2 separate regions of the Homo sapiens genome follow, and region 2 is linked to region 1. Evidence: fine-mapped expression QTL. A gene starts in region 1. The other region holds a variant in brackets. All regions are shown on one strand. Distances are between the middles of the regions. Region 1 holds the start of ACSM3 (acyl-CoA synthetase medium chain family member 3). Region 2 overlaps ACSM1 (acyl-CoA synthetase medium chain family member 1).

Evidence for each region. PIP is the estimated chance that this variant, and not a neighbour inherited with it, causes the effect.
Region 2: its variant is the best candidate, but not a certain one, in a credible set for the expression of ACSM3 in whole blood (INTERVAL, PIP 0.51).

The regions. Positions count from the first base shown.
Region 1 is chr16:20,761,632-20,766,029 of GRCh38, forward strand. It overlaps ACSM3 (acyl-CoA synthetase medium chain family member 3), which reads left to right and starts at 2,383. Exons shown (of 14, transcript NM_005622.4): 1 at 2,383-2,494. RefSeq lists an enhancer at 2,520-2,649.
Region 2 is chr16:20,664,568-20,668,965 of GRCh38, forward strand. The region is part of intron 6 of ACSM1 (acyl-CoA synthetase medium chain family member 1); the gene reads right to left. Among named protein-coding and RNA genes, the nearest start is that of ACSM1, 31 kb to the right of the region's middle. The variant T/C (reference allele first, on the strand shown) is at 1,865.

The DNA of each region.
Region 1 (4,398 bases):
GACAATCAGGTGATGGTCAGGCGGTTATTAAACTGTCACTCTAAAATAATTGGTTGCAGTAGGTGCCAGGGAAAGGCAGTCTCCTAAGAGATAGAAAACACCTAAAGCTGGTGATCAGCAGCTTTCCAATAAGATCTCAGGAACTGGGCAAGTGTGCTCAAGCATGCGTACTAAGAGGCAAAATGGCAGATTTTAACTGGTATACAACCTTCCTCTAGGAACACTTGACTGGTAAGGGAAAAACGCCTCAAATGAGAATGTGCACAACTTCAGTAAAGACATTGCACATGTGGCCCCTCCCAAGTGCTGACAGGCCACTGCACGTGCAGACAGCCCATGCCAAGGAAAAAATCAAAGGAGATACAAAACCTCGGAAGCATGCCAATGTATAAAACGCAAAGTCAAAAGTCAAACAGGGCACCTGGATCTCTCAAGTTGCCTGCTTGCCCCTCTTCCTTTGGTTCCTGCTCTAAAACTTTCTAATAAACTCTCACTCCTGCTCAAAAACTTGCCTCAGTCTCTCACTCTGCCTTATGCCTCTTGGATGAATTCTTTCCTTTGAAGAGGCAAGAATCAAGTTATTGTAGATCCGTATGGATTCACCACTGCTAACATTATGCTGAATGGTATGTGAGAGTAGAAAAAAAAACACTGTTTTTTCCCTGTCTCTAATAATGAGCTTAACATCAGAATAGAAATAATAGAAGAAAAAAATCAAAGAACTGGAAGCCAGAATTTACTCAACCTGAACAAAAGAAAGAAACTAGAATGGGAAAAAAAAGAAAAAAAAGAACAGAGCCTCAGGGACCTGTGAAACTATCATAAAAGATCTAACATGGGGGCTAAAAATTTACTCCAAGAAATAATAGCTGAAAAGTTCTCAAATTTGTCAAGAGACATAACTATAGAATTCAGCAATACAGAAAAAGAAATATACAACAGGACCAAGCAAGGTTTATTCCAGGGAGGCAAGGCTGGTTCAATATTAGAAGATCAGTGTAATCTATCTTATTAACAGGCTAAAGAAGAAAAACACCACATGCTTATAGTAACTGATGCAGAAAAAACACTTGCCAAAATTCAACACCTATTCATGATAAAAACACTCAGAAAAAAATAGAAATAGAGGAGAATTTCCTCAACTTGATAAAGGGCATCTACACAAAACCTACTACTAATATTGTACCTAACCATGAAAGACTGAATGTTTTCCCTCTAAGATCAAAAGCAAGGCAAGGATGTCTGCTCTCATCACTCTTATTCAACGTAGAGCTAGACACTCTAGCCTGCGCAATAAGGCAAGAAAAGGAAATAAAACGCATATAGATCTGAAAGAAAGAAGTAAGATCTGTTTACTTATTTACAGGTAATGTGATTACACAGAAAATCCCAAGGAATCAACAACAAAAGACTCCTAGAACTCAAAAGTGACCAACAAATTCCTCTTTAAGTAAAGTTGGGTCTCTCACATGTAATTGAAAGAGTCCTTTATTTATTCACATATCCATCAACTATTTATTGAATGCCTAAAATTTGCCAGTAGCTATTCCAGGCAATAGATACACCATCAAACAAAAAGAGTTCTTACCCTCAAGGGTGATAGTAAGAGATGTAAAAAGTTAAAAAATGGTAAAAGAGAAAAAATGAAGAGTGCTACTTTAGAAAATGAGGTAAGGGAAGAGTTATTTAATAAGACACCTCAGAAAATGAGGAATTTGGCCAGGGGGATATCTGAGGAAAGAGTTCCAGTCAGTGGAAACTGTGAATTCAGAAAGCCTGAGGCTGAAACAGGCAAGTGTGTTTGAGAAAAAGCAAGGAGGCCGGTGGCTGTGCAGAGTGAGGCAGAGGAAGGAGAATGGGCTGTGGATCAGAGGACCCTGTGCCAGATCATACAACTCCTTGCAGTTCATGTAAGGACTCGGATTTTACCTGGAGTGGAAAAAGAAGCACTGAAAGATTTGAGCAGGGGAGTAACCTGATAGCGTTTATGTTTAGTCCTGCCACTTCGACAGATAAACGCACCAATGGGCTTGATGAGATTTAGGCCAACCCATAACCGCCCCTCAACTTCTTTCCTTTCAATTTCAAAACTCCTCTATGGCTTCCTCCATCTGTTCTTCCTTCTGAGAAGTGCTCTCTCTGCCCCTTTACAGAACTAACCACTTCGGCAACTCCTTGGACACTTTCCTTCTTGTTAATAATTTGCTTTCTCCGCCCCTCAAAAGCTTGCTGTTTCTGTAAATCATTACCTGTAAGAGGAACCGCTGGGAGTCCTGTAAACTTTAGCCCAGAGCTTGGCTCCTCCTCCAGAATGTCTCCACCAATCAAGGAAAGTGTTTTGGGCCAGTCTTGCTCCTCCGGATTGTCAGACTGCTCCTCCCTCTTCTTTAGACTGCCACGAGGAAAAAGCAGATGTGAGAACTCAAGGTTCAGGGCTGCTCTTCTAAGAAACAAGTCTGCCATAATCTCCATCTGTGTTGGAATCTGTTAACTAGTGAGTACCTCATCTCCCCTCCTGTGTAAGATTTCCTGAACTGGCACATCTGTTTTTTGAGCAAAGATAACAAACAGATGAACAAAACCAACAATCAAAAATGCTGTCATTAAAGTCTTGGGCAGCCAAAGTTTCTCTCAGAATTTCTCAGTTGTGTGATACTATCTATTAAGTGATGAGGAGTATGCACACACAAAAGGCTATAAATGTAGCAGCTGAGTTTTCATGTTGAGCCTTTTGGTGCTATTTGATTTTTTGAAAAACTATGTACATGTATTAAGTTGATAAATTTTTTTTTTAATTTTAATTGAACCAGATGCGGTGGCTCAAGCCTGTAATCCCACCACTTTAGGAGGCTATGGTGGGCAGATGCAGATCACTTGAGGCCAGGAGTTCGAGACCAGCTTGGCCAACATGGTGAAACCCTATCTCTACTGAAAATAAAAAATTAGCCAGGTGTGGTGGCAGGTGCCTGTAACCCCAGCTACTTGGGAGCCTGAGGCAGTAGAGTCACTTGAACCTGGGAGGTGGAGTTTGCAGTAAGCTGAGATTGCATCACTGCACTCCAGCCTGGGTGACAGAACAAGACTCCATCTCAAAAAAAAGACCAGGTAGTGGCTGAGATTTTCATTGTACTGTCTGCTTAGCTCCCCACCTTGCTCAGTGACAGATGGGAATCCATCTTCTGCATCATCCAGAAAGTATGTAAATTACTTCCAGGAAACTTTGGGAAACACAGATGCAAACCTAAGAGCAGCCAGTTTTCTCCTTTAGGTGGTCAAGGGCAGCTGCAAAAGTTCTGTATAGGAGGGGCTTCAGGCAGGGTCTGGTTGGGTTTGGAGACAACAGCAGTGAATTTACCTTGCGTTGAGGCTGTATATGTTAAACTACTGTTATTACTTGGATACTTAGAGGGAGGGATGTTTAGGGAGCTGTGGGGAGGCTAAAGCCCCCTTGGCTGTAGGGACAAAGAGCTTGCATTTCAGATGAGACCTTAAATACTTTCAGAAGCCTATCTGACCAGGGGTGGTACTGTCTTTCTTAGAAGAGTTTTCCTTACCAATGTTTCTGTGGCTCAGTATAAAAATCTGGAGTCACCCTGGGAAAGTTATCTCAGCAATTTTACCTACAAATAATTTTATAAACCTGGGAAATAGAAGTTGTAAAATGCTAAGATCGATGAAAAGGGAGGAAAAGAACTTTGTTGAGGAGAAGGTAATCTTATGGTTTTGATGAAGAGGATGTCGATATTTGCTTTTTGGTAGAACAGAATGGTTAGGTTCATTTTAAGCTCCAAATGACTGATCAATTTTCTTTTCAACATACGTTTGAAGGATTCTGAATGTGGTGTAGAGTATTGTATGGGAGCTAGGGAACAAATCATACTAAACTCTGATTCTATTCAGAATCAGCAAGCTAAGTATGATATATTTATCTCCAATCATATTAATATTTACATAATTATTTAATGTCTTCCTTAATAGTCTATAAGCTTCATGGGAGCAAGACCAGCCGTGTCTTGTTCACAGCTATATTTTCAGCATTTAGTACAGGTCTGGCATATACCAAGTGTTCAATAAATACACGGGTAATGAATAAATGCGTTGTCCAATTTAAATATGTGTGTCTGTTTGTGTATACTTCCTTGTCTGTAAAATGAAAATACTAATAAATAACTGCAAAATGCTTAACAGTACAACCACTTGCCAGATCTCAGCAAAAATGTTACGTCCCTAGAGAGACCTCCTAAAAGGTCCCTTTTCTCCCATTACTCTCTTTGTTTTCTTGCGTAACATCACATTTATTTATTCCCTTGTTTACTATATGTGTCTTTCTATGAGAGCAAGGAGGACCTTGTCTCTTGCATTCCCTCCTGTATCCTCTATGTCTGAAATAATTCATGG
Region 2 (4,398 bases), 97 kb before region 1:
ACACACTGAAAATGTTAGACACATGATTGAGACAGAAAACTAACAAAGAAATTATGGACTTAAACTCAACATTTGACCAATTGGACCTAATAGACATCCACAGAATAATTTACCTAACAACCACAGAATATACATTCTTCTTGTTCCCACGTGGAACATATTCTAAAATTGACCACAGGTTCAGTCATAAAGCAAGTCTCAATAAATTCAAAAAATCAAAATCTTACCAAAGTACATTGTTAGACCACAGTGCAAGAAAAACAGAAATCAATGTCAACAAGATCACTGAAAACCATATAAAAACATGGAAATTAAACAATTTTCTCCTGAATAACTCTTGGGTGAACAAGAAGTCAAAAAAGTTTCTGAAATTAATGAAAATGAAAATAGAGATACCATCTACCAAAATCGTTGAGATGCACCTGAAGCAATGTTAGAGGAAAGTTTATAGCACTAAATGCCTTCATTAAGAAGTTAGAAAGATCGCTAATTAAGAATCTAATATCACTTCTAGAGGAACTAGGAAAAAAAAGAACAACCAACAAACACCAAAGCTATCAGAAGAAAATAAATAATTAAAATTAAAGAACTGAATGAAATTAAGATGCAAAAGTTTATACAAAATATCAATGAAACTGAGAGCTTGTTTTTCAAAAGAATAAACAATATTGATAGACTGCTAGCTAGATTAACAAAGAAAAAAATGAGAAGATCAAAATAAGCCCAATCGGAAATGACATAGATGACACTATAAATGGTCCCACAGAAATATAAAAGATTCTCAGAGACTATTATGAACACACTGATGCACCTGAATTAGAAAATCTACAGGAAATGGATAAATTCTTGGGAACACACAGCCTCTCAACATTGAACCAGAAAGAAAGTGAAAACCTGAACAGACAAATTACAAGTTCTGAAATTGAATCAGTAATTACTAATCCCAAAAAGCCCTGGACAAGATAGAATCACAGCTGAATTCTAACAGATATACAAAGAACTGGTACCAATCCCTCTGTAACTAATCCAAAAGATTAAGGAGAAGGGACTCCTTTCTAACCATTCTATGAAGCCAGAATGCTTTTGGCACCAAAATATGGCAGAGATACAATGACAAAAGAAAACTCCAGGCCAATATCCCTGATAAACGTAGATGCAAAAATTCTCAACAAAATACTAGTAAACTGAGTCCTGCAGCACATCAAAAAGTTAATTCACCATGATCAAGTAGGCTTTATTCCTGGGATGCAAGGTTGGGTCAACATATGCAGATCAATAAACAGGATTCACCTCTTAAACAGAATAAAAAAGAAAAGCCATATGATCCTCTTAGTAGGTGCAGAAAAAGCTTTCAAAAAATCCAATCTCTCTTCATGATAAAGCCCCTCAAGAAATGAGGCATTGAAAGAACATACCTCTAAATAATAGCCATCTATGACAAGCCCACAGCCAGCATCACACTGACCAGGCAAAAGCTGGAACCATTTCCCATGCGAATTGGAAAAAGTGTAGGATGCCCACTCTCACCACTCCTATTCAACATAGAATTGGAAGTCCTACCCAAAGCAATCAAGCAAGAGAAAGAAATAAAAGATATTCAAATAGAAAAAAAGTCAAACTATCTCTTTTTGCTGACAATATATGATTATATACATTAAAAAACCCTAAAAACTCTACCAAAGGGTTCCTGGAACGGATAAACAACTTCAGTAAAGTTCCAGGATATAAAATCAGTGTACAAAAATTAGCATTTCCATACACCAACAATGTTCTAGCTGACAGTCAAATCAAGAACACAATCTGATTTACAACTACCACTAAAAATGAAATACCTAAGAATACATCTAACCAAGGAGGTGAAAGA[T/C]GGCTACAAAGAAAACTACAAAACACTGCTGAAAGAAATCAGAGATGACACAAATAAATGGAAAAAGATTCCATGCTCATATATTGGAAGAATCAATATTGTTAACATGACCATATTGCCTAAAGCAATTTATAGATTCAATGCTATGCCTATTAAAATACCAATGTCATTTTTCACAGAATCAGAAAAAACGACTTTAAAACTCATATAGTACCAAAAAGGGCTTGAATACTGAAAAGAACAAAGCTAGAGGCATCACGTTGCCCAACTTCAAACTATGTCATAAGGCTACAGTAACCAAAACAGCATGGTACTGGTACAAAAACAGACAAATACACCAGTGAAACACAATAGAGAAGTCACAGCTATAGCCATATGGTCTTCAACAAAGTGAACAAAAATAAGCAATGGAGAAAGGACTTCCTATTCCATAAATGGTGCTGGGAAAACTGGCTAGCCATATGTAGCAGAATAAACCTGGGCTCCTACCTTTCGCCATATACAAAAATTAACTCAAGATGGAGTAAGGATTTAAATATAAAACATTACACTGTAAATATCCTAGAAGAAAATCTAGGAAATACTCTTCTGGATATTAGCTATGGCAAAGAATTTATGGCTAAGTCCCCAAAACCAATTGCATCAAAACCAAAAATTAACAAGTGGGACCCAATTAAACTAAAGAGCTTCAGCACAGCAAAAGAAATTATCAAGAGAGTAAACAGCTTACAGAGTGGGAGAAAATATTTTCAAACTATGCATCTGACAACATCCAGAATCAAATATCCAGATTCTACAAAGAATTTAAGTTATTTGTAGACTCTTATATGTGATGTCTAATTAGAACTAATATCAGAATCTACAAAGAACACAAATCAACAAGTAAAACCCAAATAATCCAATTAAAAAATGGGCAAAGTACATAAACAGACACTTCTCAAAAGAAGACATGCAAGCATCCAACAAACATATGAAAAAATGCTCAATGTCATTAATCAGAGAAATGCAAATTAAAACCACAGTGAGATACCATCTCACACCTATCAGAATGGTGATTATTAAAAGGTCAAAAACAAATGCTGGTGAGGCTTTGGAAAAAATGGAATGCTTATATACTATTGATAGAAATGCAAATTAGTTTAGCCACTGTGGAAAGCAATTTGAAAATTCCTCAACAAACTTAGAACTACCGTTTGACCCAGCAATCCCATTACTGGGTATATATCCAAAGGAAAATAAATGGTTCTACCAAGAAGACACAGAGGCTCATATGTTATTGGCAGTGCTATTCACAATAGCAAAGACATCAAATTGACCTAGGTGCCCATCAATGGTGGACTGGTATAAAGAAAATGTGCTACATATACACCATGCAATACTACACAGCCATAAAGAAGAATGAAATCATGTCTTTGGCAGCAACATGGATGAAGCTGGAGGCTGTTATCCTAAGTAAATTTATGCAGGAGTAAAAAACCAAACATCATTTTTTTCTCACTTATAAGTGGGAACTAAACATTGAATACACATGGACATAAAGTTGGAAACAATAGATGCTGGGGATAACAATAGACACTATGAGAAGGGAGAGACAGGGAGGGGGTCGTGGGCTGAAAAACTTATTGGGTACTATATGCACTAGCTGGGTCATGAGAATATTCTTACTCCAAACCTCAGAATCATGCAATATACTCATGTAACGAATCTGCACATGCACCCTCTGAATCAAAAATTTAAAAGACTTTTTGTTTTAGTCTTCAATAAGATGGACTAATACAATATCTAAATTAAAAATTATTATGAATAATTCATAAAAATAGTAAGTGGGAAATAGTAATGCAAATGCTTTTTTGGTAAATTTGTAGAATTTTAAACTTTAAGCATTTACTAAGGCTTAAAATACATAAAGACCTTTTGGGACACTCTCTATAGCAGCGGAAGAATTAGGCATGAGGATGGGAAGGGTGGTCAGTCTTGTTTGTGGTGCTTTAAGTCTCAGGTGCAGAATGTGGTACAGAAAATAATGATGGTGACACAGGAGGAGGCATTGATATAGAGGTAGGTAATGAGATATGGGAAGTGCAGTTTGATGTTCTGGAGGAATGATCAGATGGGCTTTACCAACTAGCAGGTTGGAAATGTTTTGCTAGCCTGGGAGAATCAGCTTGGACCGAGAAGACTAGACCCTAGGTACAGTCCTGACAGCCACCTGCATTGATGTGCTTGCTGAGAAAAATGGAGGTGAAGGAAATTGCTTAGAAAGAAGAACAGTAAGGGCAGACCACTGGAGCACTGCAGTATTCAGGAGCAGGCTAGGTGAAGCAGAGGTGGCTGCAGCAAATGGAGGATGTTCTTTGGTGAAGTTTGGTATTAAGGTGGAAAAGATGGGTTGACCCAGTGTGTAGCAGGTTCAAAGGAAGGCATTTTAGGATAAGTACACTGAATATGTTTACGGACTGAGGGTGTAAAACTAGCGAAAAGTGAGAGACTGAAAATACAGGAGAAAATGCATAGTAGATTAAAGATTAATAAAG